Linked DNA regions of Homo sapiens: regions 1 and 2 are each linked to region 3. The links come from fine-mapping of genetic effects on gene expression. A gene starts in region 3. Each other region holds a variant in brackets. All regions are shown on one strand. Distances are from middle to middle.

Region 1 (7,424 bases), 30 kb after region 3:
CAAATTTTGCCACTTTTTCCACTAATGTTCTTTTTCTGATCTAGGATCATTTATTGCATTTAATTGTCGTGTTTCCTTAGTTTCCTTTAAATGCAGAAGTGTTCCTCAGTCTTCTTGTCTTTTATGACCTTGACACTTTTGTAGGGTACCACCTAGTTGGTTTGTAGAATGTTCCTCAATTTGCATTTGTCTGACATTTTCTTTGGTTAAATTGAGGTTGTGCATTTTTGGTAAGAATATAATGGAAGTGATATTGTTTCCTGATCAGTGCATTCTACCAAAAGGCACATGATATTGATTTGTCCTGTTGCTGGTAATGTTAATTTTAAGGTGGTTAAAATTAACCACCCTACTCCAGTGTAAAGTTACTAATATTTCCCACTGTAAGTAATAAGCATCTTGTGGGGGATACTTTGAGGCTATACAAATTTCCTGTTGCTGTCATATCTTCACCCACGAATATTGCCATTTACTCTTGATTCTTGATTCATAGTTACTGCTATGGTGAACACTTAGATTTTGATCCATTGCTTAGACTTAACAAAAACAAAAGTAATCAGAACCTAGCTGGGCTGAGCATGGTGACTCATGCCTGTTATCCCAGTGCTTTGGGAGGCCAAGGTGGGAGGATCGCTTGAGGCCAGGAGTTCAATACCAGCCTGGGCAGCATAGTGAGACCTCATAATAAAAAATAAACCTAGATTAATTATTTCTCTTTGAATACTTCTTTAGATATTTGAGGTTTATTGAATAGAACAATGCTTTCTAAATTGTTCCTAGCTACTACCCAGTGAGCTGTGCTTTGAACCTCCTCACCTCTTTCTCACCCAGAGCAGCTTTGTGTATATAAAACAATATATGTATTTGGTATGTGCATGTGTATGCAAGATTTTGTTGACAGGCTTTTCCTTAGCTTTAAAAAAAGTTTGAAAATAATAAAAAAAATTTAATAAAACATTCGTCTTTTGAATAATTGATTAAAGTATTGAATATGACCACTTGGCAGAACATTATTTAGCTGTTTTGAAAAGTTTAAATGGTTTTGAGAGTTAATAAAGAGAATCAGTATTTATTATTCATGTACTGTGAGATCTGTATTATGTTAGCTGTTTTGGAACATTAAAAAGTATAAATTATGTGTTTGCAGTTTTCAAGGAGTTCTTGATTTGGAACAATATGAGATTTATAAAATGAAGCTACTAGGGATTAAACTAATACCACACTTGACAATAGTAAGTATTGTCTAAAACAGAAGACAGGACAGAAATACAGCCGATTAGAAAGAGGATGCTTTGTGGAAGAAATGGAACTTTAACAGAGCCTTTAAGATGGGAGTGGTAGTGCAATACATATTAAGAATGATATATGGGGGTAAGGAAGACAATACAAGCAACAGCTTAGTGATGGAAAAAAAATTTGTTAAGTTGGAAAATGCCAGGTGTCAAGATTGTTTAGGTAGGGTAAAATAAGAAACATGCATTTCTAAATTAAAAACAAAGTGTTACTTTGGAGTTGTATTATTATAATATGTATAGGTTTTGGTCGAATCATTGAGGTGAATGCTTTTGCATTTATTTGTTAACACATTAAACTCCTTCCTGTACTCCTAGAAGACTTGGATGGGGTAGGCTATACCTTTTCATTATATATCTTTATATCAATATAAAGGTGATTTATATCATTATATATCTTTTCACTTTTGTATATTCTTGCAATATTATCTGACACATTATTGGATTTTAAGCGTATATTGAATGAGCTAATGAGTGATTGCTTTAAATCATGTCCATTTTTACAGGTTCCATTTGGTCTCTTGCTGGAGCCATGCTCTATGCTGTCTATATTGTTATGATTAAGAGAAAAGTAGATAGAGAAGACAAGTTGGATATTCCAATGTTCTTTGGTAAGAATATATGTAACTTGGGAGGCTATTTACTCTAAATGATTAACACAGGGTTTTGCTTTTGTTTTTCAGAGGGAATAGGGAAGCCTTTTTTTTTCTTCCGTATGATTCTTTAAAACCATTTAAAGATTATGAAGGCCAGTCCCAATGTTTTCCTTACTTTATCCTGCATAGTTGTGCACCTATGAGGGAGTGCCCATCTCCTCAGTGTGAGACAGAAAGAAACTCCTAACACTTTTTTCAAATTGATGTCTTCAGACTGCAAGTCAGATATTTATCTCACTGATAGGACAGATTTATGCTCTTACAAGCATGTGAGAGTTTACCTGCTGTATTTTACATTTTGCCATTTTTGAATAGTTAGCAAAGGACTGGGGAGACTGCCCCCGAATTATATGTTTAATGCTGTCGCAGTCTATGTACTTATGTACATTAAAAATTGTGGGCCATTTAAATGCTTTTCATTTGCATTTTATCTTTAAGACACAGACACTTTTATAACATAGATTCATTCTCAAATTACCCAATTATAGTTTCTGGATATGGTTTATAAATTTTCCTTTGCCTGACATCAGTTCAGGAAAGAACTTGCGATATCTGTAGGACTGGAGAAGAACACATTGACAAGATAATCTTTCAAAAGATATCTGAATATAAATAGATAAAGAAGCTCCATGATAAGAGTTCAAAGTGCAGCTTACAAGGAGTCAGGAGACCTGGAATCCAGCTGTTGTAACTTTATTTATCTCATAGGCATCTGAAATATGAGGAAATTGGACTAGATGAATGGCCTCTAAACTGTGATTTAGGGAATAGGTAGGCTTCTGGGATGGTTGGAAGGAAATACAGTTGCATGCAGGGGTCTAGTTCTTGGACTCCTTTGCTGCTTCACCTGTGGAACAGCTCTACTTTGTTGAGCATTTTGCATTAGAATTTAATTTATAGTAAAGATTTTTCTTATGGCTGGGCATTGTGGCTCACGCCTGTGATCCCAGCACTTTGAGAGGCTGAGGCAGGAGGACTGCTTGAAGCCAGGGATTCAAGATCAGCCTGGGCAACATAGGGAGACTGCATTTCTATTTAATTTTTTTTAAAAAAAGACTATTTTAAAACTATTTTAAAACTAAAAATAGATTAAATACTTGTACCTAAAGACTAACAAAAATAAAATGTTTGAAAAGCCATGAGGCTGAATGATTGCTTAAATTCTTTTTAAATATAGAATTCAAGAAATATAGCATAATAGCCAGGTTTGGTTACATGTGTTTGTAATCCCAGCTGCATGAGAGGCTGAGGCAGGAGAATCACTTGAGTCCAGGAGTTCGAGTCTGCAGTGAGCTATGATTGTGTCTCTGCACTCTAGCCTGGGTAACAGAGTAAGATGCTGTCTCTTAAAAAAGAAAAGATAATTTTAATGATATTTTATTTGAGAGTCATAGAAAATTTTATTTGGAATGGAATAAAATGCTAGTTTTTTTTAGTGTTATAGGTAGGTGGTTGGGTCAGTGGTACTTTTTAAAAATTTATACA[T/C]TGACAACTTGCAAGAAAAATTGCTTAATTTACTCATATTAGGGAGAGTGCATATAGACATGTGGCTTGTGTTGGTCCTGTTCATATGTGATGTGATATGTAAAGCAATATTGATCTGCCCTGGGCTTTAGAATAGACAGGATTCGGAGAAGTTAGGATTGGGATGTTGGGGGCTCTTCAGGCAAGGGAGTGTGAGCAGAGGCTTAACAGGGAGCAGTGAGTAGATCTGAATGATTGTGCTGGAACTTCGCTTTGTGGAAGAAGAACAGAAAGGCATGTGGCGCCAGATTCTGGGCAGTCGAGGGAATAGGTGGGGTCATTGGGACTTTTGTCTCTAGGTCAAAGGATGTTAATTTACGTGGGATTTCATAGACTCAGCACTTCAGGGACTAGAAAATAGATTTAGATCTTGGTAATGCCACGTTTTGGTGTTTCATTAAAACAACTTTGTAATGTTATTTAAGCATTTTAGGTCGTGTCCTTGCTGTATATGTGTTCTTTTGTTGTTGTTTTTTTAATCAATAGATGTAAGTTGGTGTATTAGTCTGTTTTCACACTGCTATAAAGAACTACCTGAGACTGGGTAATTTATAAACAAAAGAGGTTTAATTGACTCACAGTTCTGCATGGCTGGGGAGGCCTCAGGAAACTTACAATCATGACGTAAGGTGAAGGGGAAGCAAGGCATGTTTTACACACTGGCAAGAGAGAGAGAACTTGAGAAGGGGGAACTGCCAAACACTTTAAAACCATCAAATCTTGTAAGAACTCACTATGATGGGAACAGCATGGGGGAAACCACCCACATGATCCAGTCACTTCCCACCAGGTCCCTCCCTGACACGTGGGGATTACAAGTCAAGATGAGATTTGGGTGGGGACACAGAGCCAAACCATAATAGTTGGGCTCCCTAAAACAGGATATGAGATGGGGAATTTGTGTGGGTGATTTTTTGTGGGGAGTTCACTGAAGGAAAAACTTGCAGTGAAGGAAGCAAGATAGAGAAGGGGAAAGAACCGTGTGGCGCACAAGTATAACTGAGGTTTGGCCCAATTCATTGCAGGTACTGAGGCGGGGAGCAGAGGGAGAGCAGCTAATATGTCTGGGCCTTGAGTCGTGATGGCTGGCCTCGTAAAGCCTCCATCAATTAGTCATGAGCTGCAGAAGATGGGGTGGAGTGGAGGGTGGGAACTTGCTGGGAAAGGCAGACTTATTTGCCCCCCTTCACAGAAGTGGGGTGGCTGTGAGTCTTTAGCATCAGACAGAGAGTGGGTGCTCCTGCCCTGTTAAGATTTAACTAGGCATCCTAATGACTGGTTTATTATTTAGGTGACATAGTAAGTATCAATTATATATCTACTGTAATTTAATTTTCTTTTAAGAAAGCTATATAGTTACATAAATCATATAGCAAATTTGTGACATAAACTGTATAGGAAGTACAACAAAATTTATTATAGAATTGTAATCTTTTTTCTTTATATTCTTTACTTTTACATGTATATAGTCATATATAAACTTAATTTCTATAATAATATTAGCTAACTTTTATTAAGTGCTTACCATGTGCCAGATACTATGCTATATTTTATGTGTTTTGTCTAATCTTCCCAGCAACCTAATTAAATATTATTAAATGTTATTTTATGCTTATAGATTGGAAAACTGAGGCTTAAAGAGGTATAAGGCTTGCACTACTATTGAGTGATATATAGAGCTGGGATTGGACCCAGGCAGTCAGATGGCCGAGCACACACTTAACCACTAGTCAGTCTGTACTTTGCTCATACGTTGAATAGCTCTTTGTGTGTACATACTTTCTCACTAACTAGTTAGAGGTCTGGGAATGCAGGAACCAAGAGTTTTATCTCCTTTGGAACCTTCTTCCATTATTGCTCGCAAAGCACAAGTGTTTTGGACATAAATAATTGAATCAGAGAGCAAACCATCTAATTCCTCAAAATTAATTTAGGCTGAGTACACAAACACATACATACCAGTTATTTCTTTTAAGTTCTAGGGCACTATATTATCAGTAGCTAAGGTTAACAACCCTTCTTGTTGAGTTGTCCTAAGTGGTTTATTCCATAGTAGTTGCTCCCATACAATGTGGGTAGTTGAACTGAGTGATCACCAGTTGCTTCAGACAGTTTTTTTTTCTATGGCGTTGAGCTATTCACAGGACTGACTTAAAAACAAACCAACAGAAGTTTTAGCTAAGGAAACCTCCCAGAGTGCTTTTGTGCAAAATCTAATTTTGATTTTAGAGTTAATAAGCTTGGAAAATAGAAATAAATCAATTTTAACTCTTGTCTCTTTTATACATGTTCAGGTTTTGTAGGTTTGTTTAATCTGCTGCTCTTATGGCCAGGTTTCTTTTTACTTCATTATACTGGATTTGAGGACTTCGAGTTTCCCAATAAAGTAGTATTAATGTGCATTATCATTAATGGCCTTATTGGAACAGTACTCTCAGAGTTCCTGTGGTTGTGGTATGTACTGTTTATTCTCCAATTATTATCAGTTGATTAATTTTTGGATATTTTAAGCATTTATATTTGTCTGTTTGCTGGTGGCCCTTCCTGTGCACCCCATTCTGCAACACACATACAACTGAATACTTTAACTCCACTAGAGCAGGGACTTTGTTTTTTAACTTCTGTGTGCCCATTCTAGAGTAGTACCTTGTCCACAGAAGGAGCTCAATAAATACTTGTTGAATGAAAGAATGAATATGAATGGTCTAAATCTGTAAAAATGTTTTAGAAAGTGGAGTGTTATGCAAATGAAAGTAGTCATTATCTAATGGATATCCAAACATATGAGGTATGTATGCCAAGTATGAGTGCATGAGTTCTAGTTGAGAATCCAGGAGATGCTGCTTATTTAAGAGGCTTTGGAATATCTGTTTGCTTGTTCATAGGTGTTTTTGTTTTATTTATTTTCAGAACCTTTCATATGGGTGAGCCAGATATGTAAACCTTAAACTCTGATTGATTTGAGATGTTAACATACTTTGATATGCTGTATATCCAATATACTGATATGCGATAATAAACTTAAAATAGTATGAAGACAGTATCATGTATGGAGTTTGAGAGACCTTTCAAATAACAGAGCTTTATACTTAGTCCTATTTTTATTTAATAGAAACTTGAAATGAATAGAATGAATAAAACCTAAGTGAATAAAATGAGTTTTATTACATACCCATTGAAACTGCTAACTAGTTTTCCCTTGCAAAAGACTGCAACAGAAATAGACTTTTTTGTGGAGTCTTCCTTAATGCTCTGCCTACAGTGCTGTCTCCCTGCCCAGTTAAGAAATACCTATTTTCTTGGTATCCCCCATATCACTCTCTTTTGTGTAATACTTAAAGATTTACTTTGTATTGTAGTAATTTATGTTCTTATCTAAACTCCTTTGCTGATCTAAAATTCTTTAAAATCATAATCCATTTGCTCATTAATTTTTTCATCTTTAGTTATGTACATTTTAGATACTCGATTTTTTTAACCTTAACTATTAACAGATGACAAAAGGCTTTAGCCTTTAGCTAAATTGGATCCACCTTAACAGCTGGATTAAGTCAAACAGGCTTTATAATTCTACCTCCCAGGTTTTTTATTATAGTACTCTGCATGATAAACATCCAAGAACATATGCTGTATTTGACCCCGAATGCTCTTTTCACAGAGCAGCTAAGTAGTGGGAACCACAAGTACTTGTTTCCTTTACCTCATCAATAAGGACTCGTTGTTCAGCCTCTGTTCATTACTTCTAGTGACACTTTATTGAGAGATAGCCCCTTTTATTGCAGGACAGCACTATTAATTCTGACATATACTGAGCTAGATTTTACTTGCCTATAACTTCCATGGATCTGTAGTCCTAACAATATACATTATGGTTTTATCTTGGCTTATAATTCATTTTCTCCTTATATGCCCAAATTATCAGTCTTTATAAATGGCTCATCTGTCTCCATTG
Region 2 (7,424 bases), 110 kb after region 3:
TATCTATTCATTTATTTAGGGTACTGCGTCCTCTGAGTCATGAGCTCAGGGTATCTATTCATTTATTTAGGGTACTGCGTCCTCTGAGTCATGAGCTCAGGGTATCTATTCATTTATTTAGGGTACTGCGTCCTCTGAGTCATGAGCTCAGTGTATCCATTTATTTAGGGTACTGCGTCCTCTGAGTCATGAGCTCAGGGTATCTATTCATTTATTTAGGGTACTGCGTCCTCTGAGTCATGAGCTCAGGGTATCTATTCATTTATTTAGGGTACTGCGTCCTCTGAGTCATGAGCTCAGGGTATCTATTCATTTATTTAGGGTACTGCGTCCTCTGAGTCATGAGCTCAGTGTATCCATTTATTTAGGGTACTGCGTCCTCTGAGTCATGAGCTCAGGGTATCTATTCATTTATTTAGGGTACTGCGTCCTCTGAGTCATGAGCTCAGGGTATCTATTCATTTATTTAGGGTACTGCGTCCTCTGAGTCATGAGCTCAGGGTATCTATTCATTTATTTAGGGTACTGCGTCCTCTGAGTCATGAGCTCAGGGTATCTATTCATTTATTTAGGGTACTATGTCCTCTGAGTCATGAGCTCAGGGTATCTATTCATTTGTTTAGGGTACTGTGTCCTCTGAGTCATGAGCTCAGTGTTTCCATTTATTTAGGTTACTGTGTTCTCTGAGTCATGAGCTCAGTGTGTCTATTCATTTATTTAGGGTACTGCGTCCTCTGAGTCATGAGCTCAGGGTATCTATTCATTTATTTAGGGTACTGTGTCCTCTGAGTCATGAGCTCAGGGTATCTATTCATTTATTTAGGGTACTGTGTCCTCTGAGTCATGAGCTCAGTGTATCCATTTATTTAGGGTACTGTGTCCTCTGAGTCATGAGCTCAGTGTGTCTATTCATTTATTTAGGGTACTGCGTCCTCTGAGTCATGAGCTCAGGGTATCTATTCATTTATTTAGGGTACTGTGTCCTCTGAGTCATGAGCTCAGGGTATCTATTCATTTATTTAGGGTACTGTGTCCTCTGAGTCATGAGCTCAGGGTATCTATTCATTTATTTAGGGTACTGCGTCCTCTGAGTCATGAGCTCAGGGTATCTATTCGTTTATTTAGGGTACTGCGTCCTCTGAATCATGAGCTCAGTGTATCTATTCGTTTATTTAGGGTACTGTGTCCTCTGAGTCATGAGCTCAGGGTATCCATTCATTTATTTAGGGTACTGTGTCCTCTGAGTCATGAGCTCAGGGTATCTATTCATTTATTTAGGGTACTGTGTCCTCTGAGTCATGAGCTCAGTGTATCCATTTATTTAGGTTACTGTGTCCTCTGAGTCATGAGCTCAGTGTGTCTATTCATTTATTTAGGGTACTACGTCCTCTGAGTCATGAGCTCAGGGTATCTATTCATTTATTTAGGGTACTGCGTCCTCTGAGTCATGAGCTCAGTGTATCTATTCATTTATTTAGGGTACTGCGTCCTCTGAGTCATGAGCTCAGGGTATCTATTCATTTATTTAGGGTACTGCGTCCTCTGAGTCATGAGCTCAGGGTATCTATTCATTTATTTAGGGTACTGCGTCCTCTGAGTCATGAGCTCAGGGTATGTATTCATTTATTTAGGGTACTGCGTCCTCTGAGTCATGAGCTCAGGGTATCTATTCATTTATTTAGGGTACTGCGTCCTCTGAGTCATGAGCTCAGGGTATGTATTCATTTATTTAGGGTACTGCGTCCTCTGAGTCATGAGCTCAGGGTATCTATTCATTTATTTAGGGTACTGCGTCCTCTGAGTCATGAGCTCAGGCTATCTATTCGTTTATTTAGGGTACTGCGTCCTCTGAGTCATGAGCTCAGGGTATCTATTCATTTATTTAGGGTACTGTGTCCTCTGAGTCATGAGCTCAGGGTATCTATTCATTTATTTAGGGTACTGTGTCCTCTGAGTCATGAGCTCAGTGTATCCATTTATTTAGGGTACTGTGTCCTCTGAGTCATGAGCTCAGTGTGTCTATTCATTTATTTAGGGTACTGCGTCCTCTGAGTCATGAGCTCAGTGTATCTATTCATTTATTTAGGGTACTGCGTCCTCTGAGTCATGAGCTCAGGGTATCTATTCATTTATTTAGGGTACTGCGTCCTCTGAGTCATGAGCTCAGGGTATCTATTCATTTATTTAGGGTACTGCGTCCTCTGAGTCATGAGCTCAGTGTATCTATTCATTTATTTAGGGTACTGCGTCCTCTGAGTCATGAGCTCAGGGTATCTATTCATTTATTTAGGGTACTGCGTCCTCTGAGTCATGAGCTCAGGGTATCTATTCATTTATTTAGGGTACTGCGTCCTCTGAGTCATGAGCTCAGGGTATCTATTCATTTATTTAGGGTACTGTGTCCTCTGAGTCATGAGCTCAGGGTATCTATTCATTTATTTAGAGTACTGCGTCCTCTGAGTCATGAGCTCAGGGTATCTATTCATTTATTTAGGGTACTGTGTCCTCTGAGTCATGAGCTCAGGGTATCCATTCATTTATTTAGGGTACTGTGTCCTCTGTGCCATGAGCTCAGTGTATCTATTCATTTATTTAGGGTACTGCGTCCTCTGAGTCATGAGCTCAGTGTATCCATTTATTTAGGGTACTGCGTCCTCTGAGTCATGAGCTCAGTGTATCTATTCATTTATTTAGGGTACTGTGTCCTCTGAGTCATGAGCTCAGGGTATCTATTCATTTATTTAGGGTACTGTGTCCTCTGAGTCATGAGCTCAGGGTATCTATTCATTTATTTAGGGTACTGTGTCCTCTGAGTCATGAGCTCAGGGTATCTATTCATTTATTTAGGGCTGCTTCAATTTCTCTCAGCAATGTTTTGTAATTTTGAGTGTGCAGGTTTTTCACATATTTTGTCAGAATTATTTCTCAATATTTCGTATTCTGATATTCAATTGTTGACTGCCAGTATACAGAAATACAATTGATTTTTGTGTGGTTCCCATGTATCTTGAAACCATGCCAAGTTCATTTATTAATTCTGGTGCTCTGTAGCTGCCACTGGATTTCAACATAGACAATCAAGTCTTCTGTGAATAAAGACAGTGTTATTTCTTTCTTTATTTTTGAGATGGAGTCTCGCTCTGTCTTCCAGGCTGGCGTGCAGTGGCACAATCTTGGCTCACTGCAACTTCTGCCTCCCAGGTTCAAGTGATTCTCCTACCTCAGTCTCACGAGTAGTTGGGACTACAGGCATGTGCCAGAACGCCTGGCTAATTTTTGTATTTTTAGTAGAGATTGGGTTTCACCATGTTGGCCAGGCTGGTCTTGAACTCCTGACCTCGGGTGAACCACCCAACTCGGCCTCCCAAAGTGCTGGGGTTACAGGTGTGAGCCTCCACGCCCAACCTTATTTATGTTTTTCTATCTGAAAGCCCTTGTTTTTCTTGCCTTATTTCACAGTACAATGCTGAATGGAAGTGGTGAGAGTGGACATTCTTGTTCCTGAGCTTAAGCATGAAAAGCTTCAGTCTGTTGCCATTAAGTGTGATGTTAACTGTGGGTTTTTCACAAATACCATTTATTAGGCTGAGGATATTTTATTCTCTAAGAAAAATATAGAGGTTTATATTTTTGCTAAGAGGTTTATATTTTTATTTTTTACACAGTAATGAGTGTTGAATTTTGCCAGCTTTTCCTACATTTATTGAGATGATCATGTAATTTTTCTGTTTTTACTTAGTTAATCTGGTGTATTAAATAAACTATTTTAGAACAACTTTAGATTTATAGTAGTCACAGATTGTTACAGATTTAATCCTCTAGTTTGAGACTATTTCTCAGTCTTTCTTTGCTCTTATATGACCTTGACAAATTTGAGGGATAGTTAGGTATTTTGTAGAATATCCCTCCATTTGAATTTGTGTAATATTTTTCTCATGATTATATTGGGATTATGAATTTTGGGAAAAAGTCTCATAGAGACAAATTATCCTCATCACATCCTATCAGGAGTCTACAACATACATATGACAACAGTGATGACATTAACCTTGATCCGTTGGTCAGGGCAGTGTTTTCTGGGTTTCATCACTGTT[C/T]GCTTTCTATAAGTGCTTCTTTAGAAGTGAGCCACTCAGTCCAGCCCATTCTCTGTAGTGATGGTGGTTGGGGGTGTTGGCTCCACCCCCTGCAGATGGCAGGAGTTACACATAGTATTTTTAATTTTTCTGTATGAAAGATTTGTCTCTTATTATTCATCTATTCATTATATTAGTGTAGATCCCTAATGTATATTTATTTTATACAGTGGACTATAAACCAATATGACATTATATAATTTGTTGCTCACATTTTTCCAGCTTTGCCCATTGGGAGCCCTTTCATATTGGCTCTTGAGTCCCTTTGACATGCCTTCATCATTTTTTAAATTAAAAAATTATTACTAATTTATTTTTATTTTATGGAGATAGGTTCTTTCTATGTTACAGCCCAGGCTGGTGTGGTCTTGAACTCCCGGCCTCAAGCAATCCTCCTACCTCTGCCTTCCAAAGTGCTGGGATTACAGGTGTGAGCCATTGCACCCGTGGCTTCATTCCCGGCTTCATTTAATTTGTTGAGCACATCCTTCCTTTCTGATATAATAGGTGCTACAGGCTCATTTTGCATTTCCCCTGCTTCAACCCTGGAATCCACCATTTCTCTAAAGTAATCTGGTTTTTTCACTGGAAAGTGTTTTTTTAGAAACTAAGATCTGGACACTGGGTGTGCTTGTCAATACTGAGATGTATTACTTCTAAGCCCTCAAAGCTGGATGAGACAGTTAGGTAATATATGTTGTATACTAACCCATGTACACACATGTATCTATTATTGTTTTTGTATCTATCCATTTTATATATATATAAAGCTAAATGAGAGTTCACGATAATACTTTCACCTCTTATCCAGTACCGCAAGATTTAGTTTATCCTTTTCTTGCTTCCAATACTTTTTTTTTTTTTGAGACAGAATCTTGCACTGTGGCTCAGGCTAGAGTGCAGTGGCGTGTGATCTCAGCTCACTGCAACCTCCCCCTCGTGGGTTCAAGCGATTCTCCTGCTTCAGCCTCCCGAGTAGCTGGGACTATAGGCGCCCACGACCACGCCTGGCTAATTTTTTGTATTTTTAGTAGAGACGGGGTTTCACCATGTTGGCCAGGCTGGTCTCGAACTCCTGACCTCGGGATCCGCCCACCTTGACTTCCCAAAGTGCTGGGATTACAGGCGTGAGCCACCGTGCCCAGGCCCATTAATTTTTTTTTTTTTTTGAGACGGAGTCTCACTCTGTCGCCCGAGCTGGAGTGCAGTGGTGCGATCTCAGCTCACTGCAAGCTCCGCCTCCCGGGTTCATGCCATTCTCCTGTCTCAGCCTCCCGAGTAGCTGGGACTACAGGTGGCCGCCACCATGCCCGGCTAATTTTTTTTGTATTTTTTAGTAGAGATAGGGTTTCACTGTGTTAGCCAGGATGGTCTCGATCTCCTGACCTCGTGATCCGCCCGCCTCGGCCTCCCAAAGTGCTGGGATTACAGGCGTGAGCCACCGCGCCCGGCCCCATTAAATAATTTTTAAATGTTTAACTGACATTGCACTCCTGGGATAAACTCCACTTTAGTCATGTGTATTATCCTTTTAATATGCTGCTGGACTTCTCTTATTTATTTATGTATTTATTTTATTTAGAGGCAGGGTCTCATTCTGTCATCCCAGCTGGAGTGTAGTGGTGCAATCATAGGTCACTGCAGCCTTGAACTCTTGGGCTTAAGCGATCCTTTCATCTCAGCCTCCCTAGTAACTGGGACTACAGTCATGTGCCGCCACACCCAGCTAATTTTAATGTTTTTAGTAAAGACGGGGTTTTGCCATGTCGGCCATGCTGGTCTTGAATTCCTGGCCTCAAGTGATCTGCCCTCCTTGGCCTCCCGAAGTGCTGAGATTACAGGCGTGAGCCACTGCACCCACCCACAATTAATTTTAAAGTATTCTCGTTACTTGAAAATCTGTACCCTTAGCTTCCTGGCCCCCACCAAATTCCTTCCCAACTTCACCGGCAACCCCCCCACCCTAAACAACCACTATCTGTTATTTTTGTCTGTAATCTTTCTGTTCAGTAATCTTTCTGTCTCTGTAGATTTGCCTGTTCTGGACATTTCATATTAATGAAATCGCACAACCTGCGGTGCTTTATACGTGGCGTCTTTCATTCAACATACTTTTTTTTCAGTTTCATCCATGTTGTAGCACATATTAGCACTTCATTTCTTTGTATTTTTGAGTAATATTTCATCGTGTGGATATACCACATTTTATGGATATTTGGATTATTTCCAGCTTTTTGGTTATTATGGATAGTGCTGCTATAACCACTCATATACAAGCTTTTCTGTGAGCACATGTTCTCATTTCTCTTGAGTGTATACCTAGGAGTAGATTTGCAGGATCATATGGTTAACTCGATATTTCACCATTCCAGGACTGCCAAACTGTTTTCCAAAGTGCCTGCACTATTTTACTTCCTCCTCAGCAGTGTATAAGGGTTCCGATTTCTCCACAGCCTCATTAACACTTGCTATTATCTTTTTCATTACCAGTAAGTGGCATCTCATTCTGGTTTTGATTTGCATTTCTCTCATGACTAATGATGTTGAGCATCTTTTCATGTACTTATCGGCCATTTGTATATTTTCTTTGGAGAAATGTGCATTTGCTTCATGTATTTTTAAAAACCATTTTATCGATATACATATTTAAGGTATACCACTTGATGAGTTTGAAATAAGTATATACCCATAAAAACGTCACCACAATGAATGCCATAAACATATTCATCACTTCAAAAAGTTTGCTCCCTCTCTCTTCATTTCTAATTCTCATGTTTTGTGATAAGGACACTTAACATAAGATCTATTTCCAGTAAATCTTTAAGTATGTAATACAGTGTTGTTAACTATAGTCACTATGCTGTACAGGAGGTCTCTAGGACTCATCCCTCCGGCATAGCTGAAGCTTTGCACCCAATGAGCAATGCCTGCTTGTTTCCTCCTCCCCCTAGCCCTTGGCAACCACCATTCTACTCTCTGCTTCTCAGTTTGAATATTTTAGATTCCTTATGTAAGTGAGATCATGTAGTATCTGTCCTACTGTGTCCGGCTTCTTTAACTTAGTATATTTGCTGCAAATGGAAGGATTTCCTTTTTATTTTATTTTATTTTATTTTATTTTGAGACTGAGTCTCGCTCTGTTGCCCAGGCTGGAGTGCAGTGGCGTGATCTAGGCTCACTGCAAGCTCTGCCTTCTGGGTTCACGCCATTCTCCTGCCTCAGCCTCCCAAGTAGCTGGGACTACAGGTGCCCGCCACCATGCCTGGCTAGTTTTTTTTTTTTTTTTTTTTT
Region 3 (7,424 bases):
GAGGTTGCAGTGAGTCGAGATCGAGCCACTGCACTCCAATCTGGGTGACAGAGTGAGATCCCATCTCAAAACAAAACAAAAACAAACAAACAAAAAAACGTTGTAAGGTTCAAATTCAAAATAAGTCTTTTATATACGATAATTTTTAAAAATTGTCAACCTCAATCCATTTAATTACATCTTAGAAGGAAATCAAATCAACAAGCATTTGTCAAGCTGATCATGTGCCCAGCATTCTGGTAGGTACTGCAGAAAATAAGATGATATAGAGTACTCTTGTGACAGACTGAATATAGAAATGGACAATGACCAGAACATATATAAAAATAGAACTCTGACCTACAACCTCTCCAGGAACTAGTCCAGAAAGACAACAGCTATTTCTGCATTAATCATCCCAGGACTTGATCAACTGCCAGTTTCCTTAGTTTTTGTCCTGTTTCCAACTTAGGACCAACCAGAGAAAGCCAAATATGTATCCTCAACTGACCACATAGGATGCCGTGCTTCCACTTAACCTGCCTCCAGCCAGCAACATCAAATCAGGGCATACCTGAAGTCTTTCCTTTTTTCACATTATAAAGCTTTCACACTCTCCTGCCTGCCTTCCGATCTCTGAAAAACACAAGTGATGGTGGCTGACTGCTTTGCTACAGCAAGCTTTGAATAAATATCCTTTGCTTGTACTCATTTGAGTGTTCTCCATTTATTTCTGCTCTTGGAATTACAGAATTATTATAGGTGGTTTCAATTATTAATTTATACCCCCAAAGACTCAAGATATAGTCATTTATAATTTTATTAGGGCTGGGATTTGAATTATACTATTTGAGACTGATATATGGCAGTTAGTGACTGCCCTGTACACACATATGATTTTGCTTTTGTATTCACACTGTGACACATGCACCTTACTGGGGAAATTATATTCTCTAGAGTGTATTTTGGGGGATTATTTTGGAAGGCATTGAACTTAACACCTTATGTATCTTCAGGGCCTGCTATTGAGAAATTTCAAGAGTGATCGACTTTGAAGAGTAAAGAGGAAATTAATAAAATTAAAAGATTAAGCCTGTGGGACTTAGAAAAATAGTGCTACTCTGTTGACCTAAAAGGAAGAAGCTGAAGCAAAATTAATATAAGTAGAGTTAATTTGGGTCAAGCTTGAAGATTGCAACCTAGGAGCATATATTCAAGTTGCCTTGAATATACACACCATTAGCAGCCACCACAGGTGAATCTTTATTATTTATTTATTTACTTTGAGACAGAGTCTCGCTCTGTTGCCCAGGCTGGAGTCAATGGCACCATCCCGGCTCACTGCCACCTCCACCCCCAGGTTCAAGAGATTCTCCTGCCTCAGCCTCTGAGTAGCTGCGATTACAGGTGCGTGCCACCACACCTGGCTAATTTTTGTATTTTTAGTAGAGACAGGGTTTCGCCACGTTGGTCAGGCTGGTCTTGAACTCTTGACCTCGTGATCCGCCTGCCTCGGCCTCCCAAAATGCTGGGATTACAGGCGTGAGCGACTGCGCCTGGCCCACAAGGGAATCTTTAAAGGCAAAAAAGGGAACAAGGAGTGGGCTGATACCACGTTGTGTACAGAAATTCTTATTGGTTTATGGAAATAACATTTATTAGTGATTGGTTACATTGTTAAGCTATAGGATGTGGGTTATACTGTCCAATGGGACATTAGGTTAATTTATAGCTACTTGTGGCATAAGCAAGTAGTTTCAAGAGATGAATACATAGCACAAGGGAGAAGTAGGATGTGATTGTTGTCTCCTTTTAATGTCCCTCTGGGCCTGACAGTTTAAAATAACTACATTCCTCAGATAAAAATAATTTTCTTTTCTCACTACTAAATGACAGAAATGGAGACTTCAGAAAGGAATTAAGTATGAGGAAAAGATCAAGAGACAGCAGGATGTTCAAGTTCATTGAACAAACATTGACTGCCAGCTAGAGAATAGTAAGCACTATTCTAGATGCTGAGGATAATAGTGAAGAACAAAATAGACCAAAATCCTTGCTCTTGTGGAACTTATCTTTGAAATTATACAGCTGAAGATTTAGCCTTGGGTAACACAGAGAAATAAGGATGAAAAAAGGAATGCCTGAGATGCTCAGGATGGTGCCAAAGCACAGAAACACACTAGGGCCTATGTTACAGCAGTCCAGTGGAATTTCCCTTAAAGAACCCAGGGAAAAGACATTAATGGAAGTTGAACTATGTTTTGAGACTCGCTGAAGACAGTCTGCCAGAATTACTTTATCCGTTACAAGAATATCCACAGCTTGTCCTTTAACAGATGGTCTGGAAACAGGTGGTAATAATGGTAACTTAACAAAGTACTATCATTTACAATATTTTAATTCAGAAACCCATATTTATAGAAGAAACTAAGGCACAGTAGAGAGTGGAATGATCCTCAGGATTACATAACAAGTTGTAGTCAGATAAAGCATTGGTATCCAGCTTTCCTGACTCTTAGATTCTGAGAGAGATTTATAATGCTCTTATTTTTTAAGACTATACATCAAATATGTAGCATAAAGAATTCTTAGGCGTATTATGGGCTGATACCCTAAAGAATGCTAATGAAATAAAAAACAAACTGGTGCCAGACTAATGTGATTAATGTCTGCAACCAAATTTCCCCTAAGTAGTAATACCAAGTAGTTGGTTAAGGATTTATTTATTTATTTATTTATTTTGAGACGGAGTCTCGCTCTGTTGCCCAGGCTGGAGTGCAGTGGCGCGATCTCGGCTCACTGCAAGCTCCGCCTCCCGGGTTCACGCCATTCTCCTGCCTCAGCCTCCCGAGTAGCTGGGACTACAGGCGCCCGCCACCACCCCCGCCTAATTTTTTGCATTTTTTTAATAGAGACGGGGTTTCACCGTGTTAGCCAGGATGGTCTCCATCTCCTGACCTCGTGATCCACCTGCCTCGGCCTCCCAAAGTGCTGGGATTACAGGCATGAGCCACCGCGACCGGCCTGGTTGGTTTTTTTTTTTACTCTGCACAATAGGTTTCTGAATGACTTATTAGAGGTGTTTGATGCTGATAGTTTGAAACTGATTCGATCAATTAAAAAATGTTCATTGGTATTGTTTTATTAGTTGCTAGAATATGCATTCAACTTCACTGAAACGAGACTTAAAAGGTAAGAGGTACACTACATCGCGACTATAGGAGTAAGAAAATTTAATTTCTTCACGCCATCTGACCAAGATGTTAAATTACTGAACCCTTTAGTCTTGTTTTTGTTTTGTAGATAGAAATCAAGATGCTGGACAAACCTTTCTCATGGAATAGTCAAAATATTTAAGGAACAAATCTATACAGTTTAATAACTGCCAACATTTGGCAGGGCTCATGCCTGTAATTCCAGCACTTCGGGAGGTCGAGGCGGGCGGATCACTTAAGACTAGGAGTACGAGACCAGCCTGGCCAACATGGCGAAACCCTGTCTCTACTAAAAAATATAAAAATTAGCCGGGCATTGGTGGCTTGCGCCTGTAGTCCCGGCTACACTGGAAGCTGAGGCTGGAGAATCGCTTGAGCCCGGGAAGCAGAGGTTGCAGTGAGCTGTGATTGTGCCACTGCACTGCAGCCTGGGTGGCAGAGAAAGACCCTGTCTCAAAACAAACGAACGAACAAAAAATTGCTGACGTCTGTGAGGTTCTTATTATGTGCCATGAATTGATCTACGTCCTTCACATATGTAAACTCATGCAATCCTAGCATACACACAAAAAACCAATGTGGCAGGTACTATCATTATCGTAGACAAGGAAACCGAGGACCAGAGAAGTTGAAGTAGCTTGGCCTAGGATGTAGGTTGTAACTCCTAGAGCTGAGATCTTGTTTATATACAAAAGGTTTCAAGAATCAAAAGTACTCTAAGCCACTTTGCGTTTCGGCTGTCATCGAGAAAGGGATATCCGAAGTTTCAGGTTCGCAGTTTGTGAAACGGAACGGCCAGCTTTCGTTCTAAGGCGGGCGGAGGTTTAGCCACTCCCTCGTCCTTTGCTCTGCCCCAGACACCCACGCTCGCTTTCCTCTTCTTCCTCCACCTCGCCCTACTTCCCTTCTTCCTATCTTCTCTCTTCTTTCGCCTCGCCGCCGCGAGCCCTCGCTCGGCGACCAGAGCCTCGCATTACTTCCCCTAGCTCCGCCAAGCCTCGCTGCATACGCGACCGCGCGCAGTCCGCCGTCGCGCCCCTATGACGTCACCCGCGCGCCACCGCTTCCGGGCTGGGGACTGGGGGCGGGGCCGCGCGGAGGGCAAGCCGGGGGCGGGGCCGGGGCCAGAGCAGATCTCCGGGCCTCCGCGGCCATAGCTGACTGTGCCGTCCCTTCCCCTCACCCGCTCCACGCCCTCCTGGGCCGAGTGGAGTTGGGTGGTGTCGGGAGCCTCTCCCTGAGGGGCACCGCGTCTTCAGGAGCTGGGCCTCCAGTGCGGCGCGATGTCAGGCGCGGTGACAGCTCTGTGAGTCCGAGGCCGCGGCCGTGGCGCTGGGCGGCTGCGGGGCCTGACCGGTCCGCTCATGGTGCCGCCACGACGCCATCGCGGGGCAGGAAGGCCAGGTAGGCAGGCAGGGAAGGGCCCCGACATCACCGGAGCCCAAACCGGGACGGAGTGCCCACCAGCAGCACCACCTCCTGCCCTCGGTGGCAGCAGGAGCGCCTTGACCGAAACCGTGAAGGTCTCTAGGGGCGGAGGGAGCGGGAGCTGACAGGGGCGCCGGAGCCCTGCGCCCACCGCTGGCAATTGAGGAAGCCGTGCGTGCGCCCTCGCCTCGGCTCCCCGGGGAGGCGTCGCTGCCTTAACTGTCTTCCCCGCTCCAAAACAGAAGGATGATTTCTTTTCCCAGCTGTTTCTTTTAAAATGACTGGATGTTTTGATAGAGGTGGGTGGAGGAGCATGGAGAATCCTTTTCTTTTACCACTTGAAGAGATTGGAAAGGTGCCTTCAAGACCCACAGCAAATCACTTACTCTCCGATAACCAAATTCCACTCCAGCAGATCAGGGACAGAAAAGACACTTTTAGAAACAGTGTCTAGACGCTGTCCCCAGGGATGGATTCCTCTGGATGGAGAGGTGAATGGAGTTCCGTATTTGTGAAACTCAGAGAAGCTATTTTCTGGTAGTTAACTGTTCTTAAATGTGCCGTATGTTGTATATTACTCCCCCTCCCTGCCCGCCCCGTATCGCGTATCTCTCTAAGTATAATCTGAAGCGTGCAGTGGATACCATGAAAGTACTGAGAAAGGTGGCAAGTATGTTTAACACATTTTGGTCCTTTTCATTGATTTGCTTTGAGTTTGAAGATGAAGAGTAAAAAACGATGTGATGAATCTTACCTTGAGTTATTCACGTTTTCATAGCATAATTTCATGGTTGTTTTTAGGGGTGCTGAGTTCTTCACCTCCTTTTAGACTGAGATCTGCCAAGTTTTCCGGCATTGCTCTTGAGGATCTCAGAAGGGCTCTTAAGACAAGGTAGATTCCACGTTTATCCTCTATGTAACTTTCACACTGAACATTAGCTAACAAAAGTCAAATGTTTCTGTTATACTAATGTTCTCATTTTTAATGGTTGTTTTTCTAAAATCATCTCTAATGTGATCTGTATTTTCTAAAAAACAGACTGCAAATGGTGTGTGTATTTGTCATGAACCGAATGAATTCCCAGAACAGTGGTTTCACTCAGCGCAGGCGAATGGCTCTTGGGATTGTTATTCTTCTGCTTGTTGATGTGATATGGGTTGCTTCCTCTGAACTTACTTCGGTATGTACCTTTGGTCCAGGAATGATGTTACATTACAGCCACAATGTTAACTCTTAACCTGTAGTAACTCTAGCCGTTACAATCTCCTGCTTTCTAAAAGCAGTATCTTAAATACTATTGAATTTTTAAAAAACGTTGAATTATTGCCACTTGAAGTTAAAACTGAAAGGATGATCCTTTTTATTGTTTCATACAGTTTTCTTGTATCTTTTAGGGAGGGTTACTTAGAGAGACTATGCATATTTTCTTACATTTGAAAGTGTAACTCGTGGCTTTTTTTCTAAATTCAAATTCTTTCTGTAAATATTATTTTCTAGTGAAATAACTGTCAGGATGCAAAACAATGTCACCATTTAGTAGAAGGTTCAGAGTGCTTTTGGACAAATGAGTAAAAATAATGAGTTTTCATGTATAGGTCACTGTTACAATGCCCATGAGTGGTTGCATCCACATTTATGCTTGCTGACTCAAACCTTATTATAAGATGCATGGTATACCTCATAATTTTCCTTCAGTTAAATTGTATCTTGACAGTTTCCTTCAGTTAAATTGTGTCTTTATTGATGACCTATTGGTAGTAATGTGGCATTTTGAATTTGCAAGCTAGTTTTTCTTTCTACTTGTATACTTTATTCTGCTTGGTTAATGATCCCTATAAAAAGCAACTTTTATTTTCAGAAGTCTGCATTTCAACTTCTACGTTGCAATTTTAAGGCGAATATACAGCAGGAAACTGGCATTTATAAAATGAACCTAATTTTCAAAAGAAGCAGTTTAATACTCAGGTCTCATATTGTAGCTAAGTAAATATTGACATTGGCATTGTATCCTATGAGTATATAAGTTTTTTTTTTTTTTTCTTTTTTTTTTGAGATGGAGTCTTGCTCTGCTCTGTCGCCCAGGCTGGAGTGCAATGGTGCGATCTCGGCTCACTGCAACCTCCGCCTCCCGGGTTCAAGGGATTCTCCTGCCCCGGCCCCCTGAATAGCTGGGATTACAGGCACACCCCACCACGCCAGGCTAATTTTTGTATTTTTAGTAGAGACGGGGTTTCACCATGTTGGTCAGAATGGTCTCAAACTCCTGACCTCATGATCCGCCCGCCTCGGCCTCCCAAAGTGCTGGGATTACAGACGTGAGCCACCTCACCTGGCCAAGTATATAAGTTTTTATGCTTTTCAGAATTAATCTCTGGAATCTAATAGACCATATATTTTTTGCTTTAAAACTCTTCTCTAACCTTCTTTTAGATGAACATTTTGTACTTCTACCTCAAAGAAATGTCTTTGATATTGACAGGGAACTAAACCTATCTTTTAAATTTTATTTTCATTTAAAATAAATAGTTTGTTTTTATATATTAGTTAATAAAATTTAGGACAAAATAGCACCTGGTTAAATTATCATTTAACCATATCTAAGCAAAGTAGAAAGGAAAAAACAATTTGTTGTTTGTGGTAATCATTTCACAATGTATACATATATCGAAACACCATGTTGTAAAAAATACATATATTTGGTGTTTGTCAGTTGTACTTTGATGAAACTGGAGGAAAAAACTCAACTTACCTTAATTTTTTTAAAGTAAAATATTTTAGTAAGAGGATGTTTTACAATCTCA

The links. PIP is the estimated chance that this variant, and not a neighbour inherited with it, causes the effect. A credible set is the group of variants that fine-mapping cannot tell apart.
Region 1: its variant is the best candidate, but not a certain one, in a credible set for the expression of SLC35F5 in whole blood (INTERVAL, PIP 0.69).
Region 2: its variant is the best candidate, but not a certain one, in a credible set for the expression of SLC35F5 in whole blood (TOPMed, PIP 0.75).

What each region holds. Positions count from the first base shown.
Region 1 is chr2:113,723,880-113,731,303 of GRCh38, reverse strand. It overlaps SLC35F5 (solute carrier family 35 member F5), which reads left to right. Exons shown (of 16, transcript NM_025181.5): 11 at 1,799-1,903; 12 at 5,767-5,926. Among named protein-coding and RNA genes, the nearest start is that of MIR4782, 6.2 kb to the right of the region's middle. The variant T/C (reference allele first, on the strand shown) is at 3,434.
Region 2 is chr2:113,646,037-113,653,460 of GRCh38, reverse strand. No RefSeq gene overlaps it. Among named protein-coding and RNA genes, the nearest start is that of RABL2A, 22 kb to the right of the region's middle. The variant C/T (reference allele first, on the strand shown) is at 4,095.
Region 3 is chr2:113,753,544-113,760,967 of GRCh38, reverse strand. SLC35F5 (solute carrier family 35 member F5) reads left to right here and starts at 4,326. Exons shown (of 16, transcript NM_025181.5): 1 at 4,326-4,598; 2 at 5,424-5,514; 3 at 5,662-5,803. The coding sequence starts at 4,559. RefSeq lists enhancers at 3,551-3,600, 3,781-3,960 and a silencer at 4,171-4,400.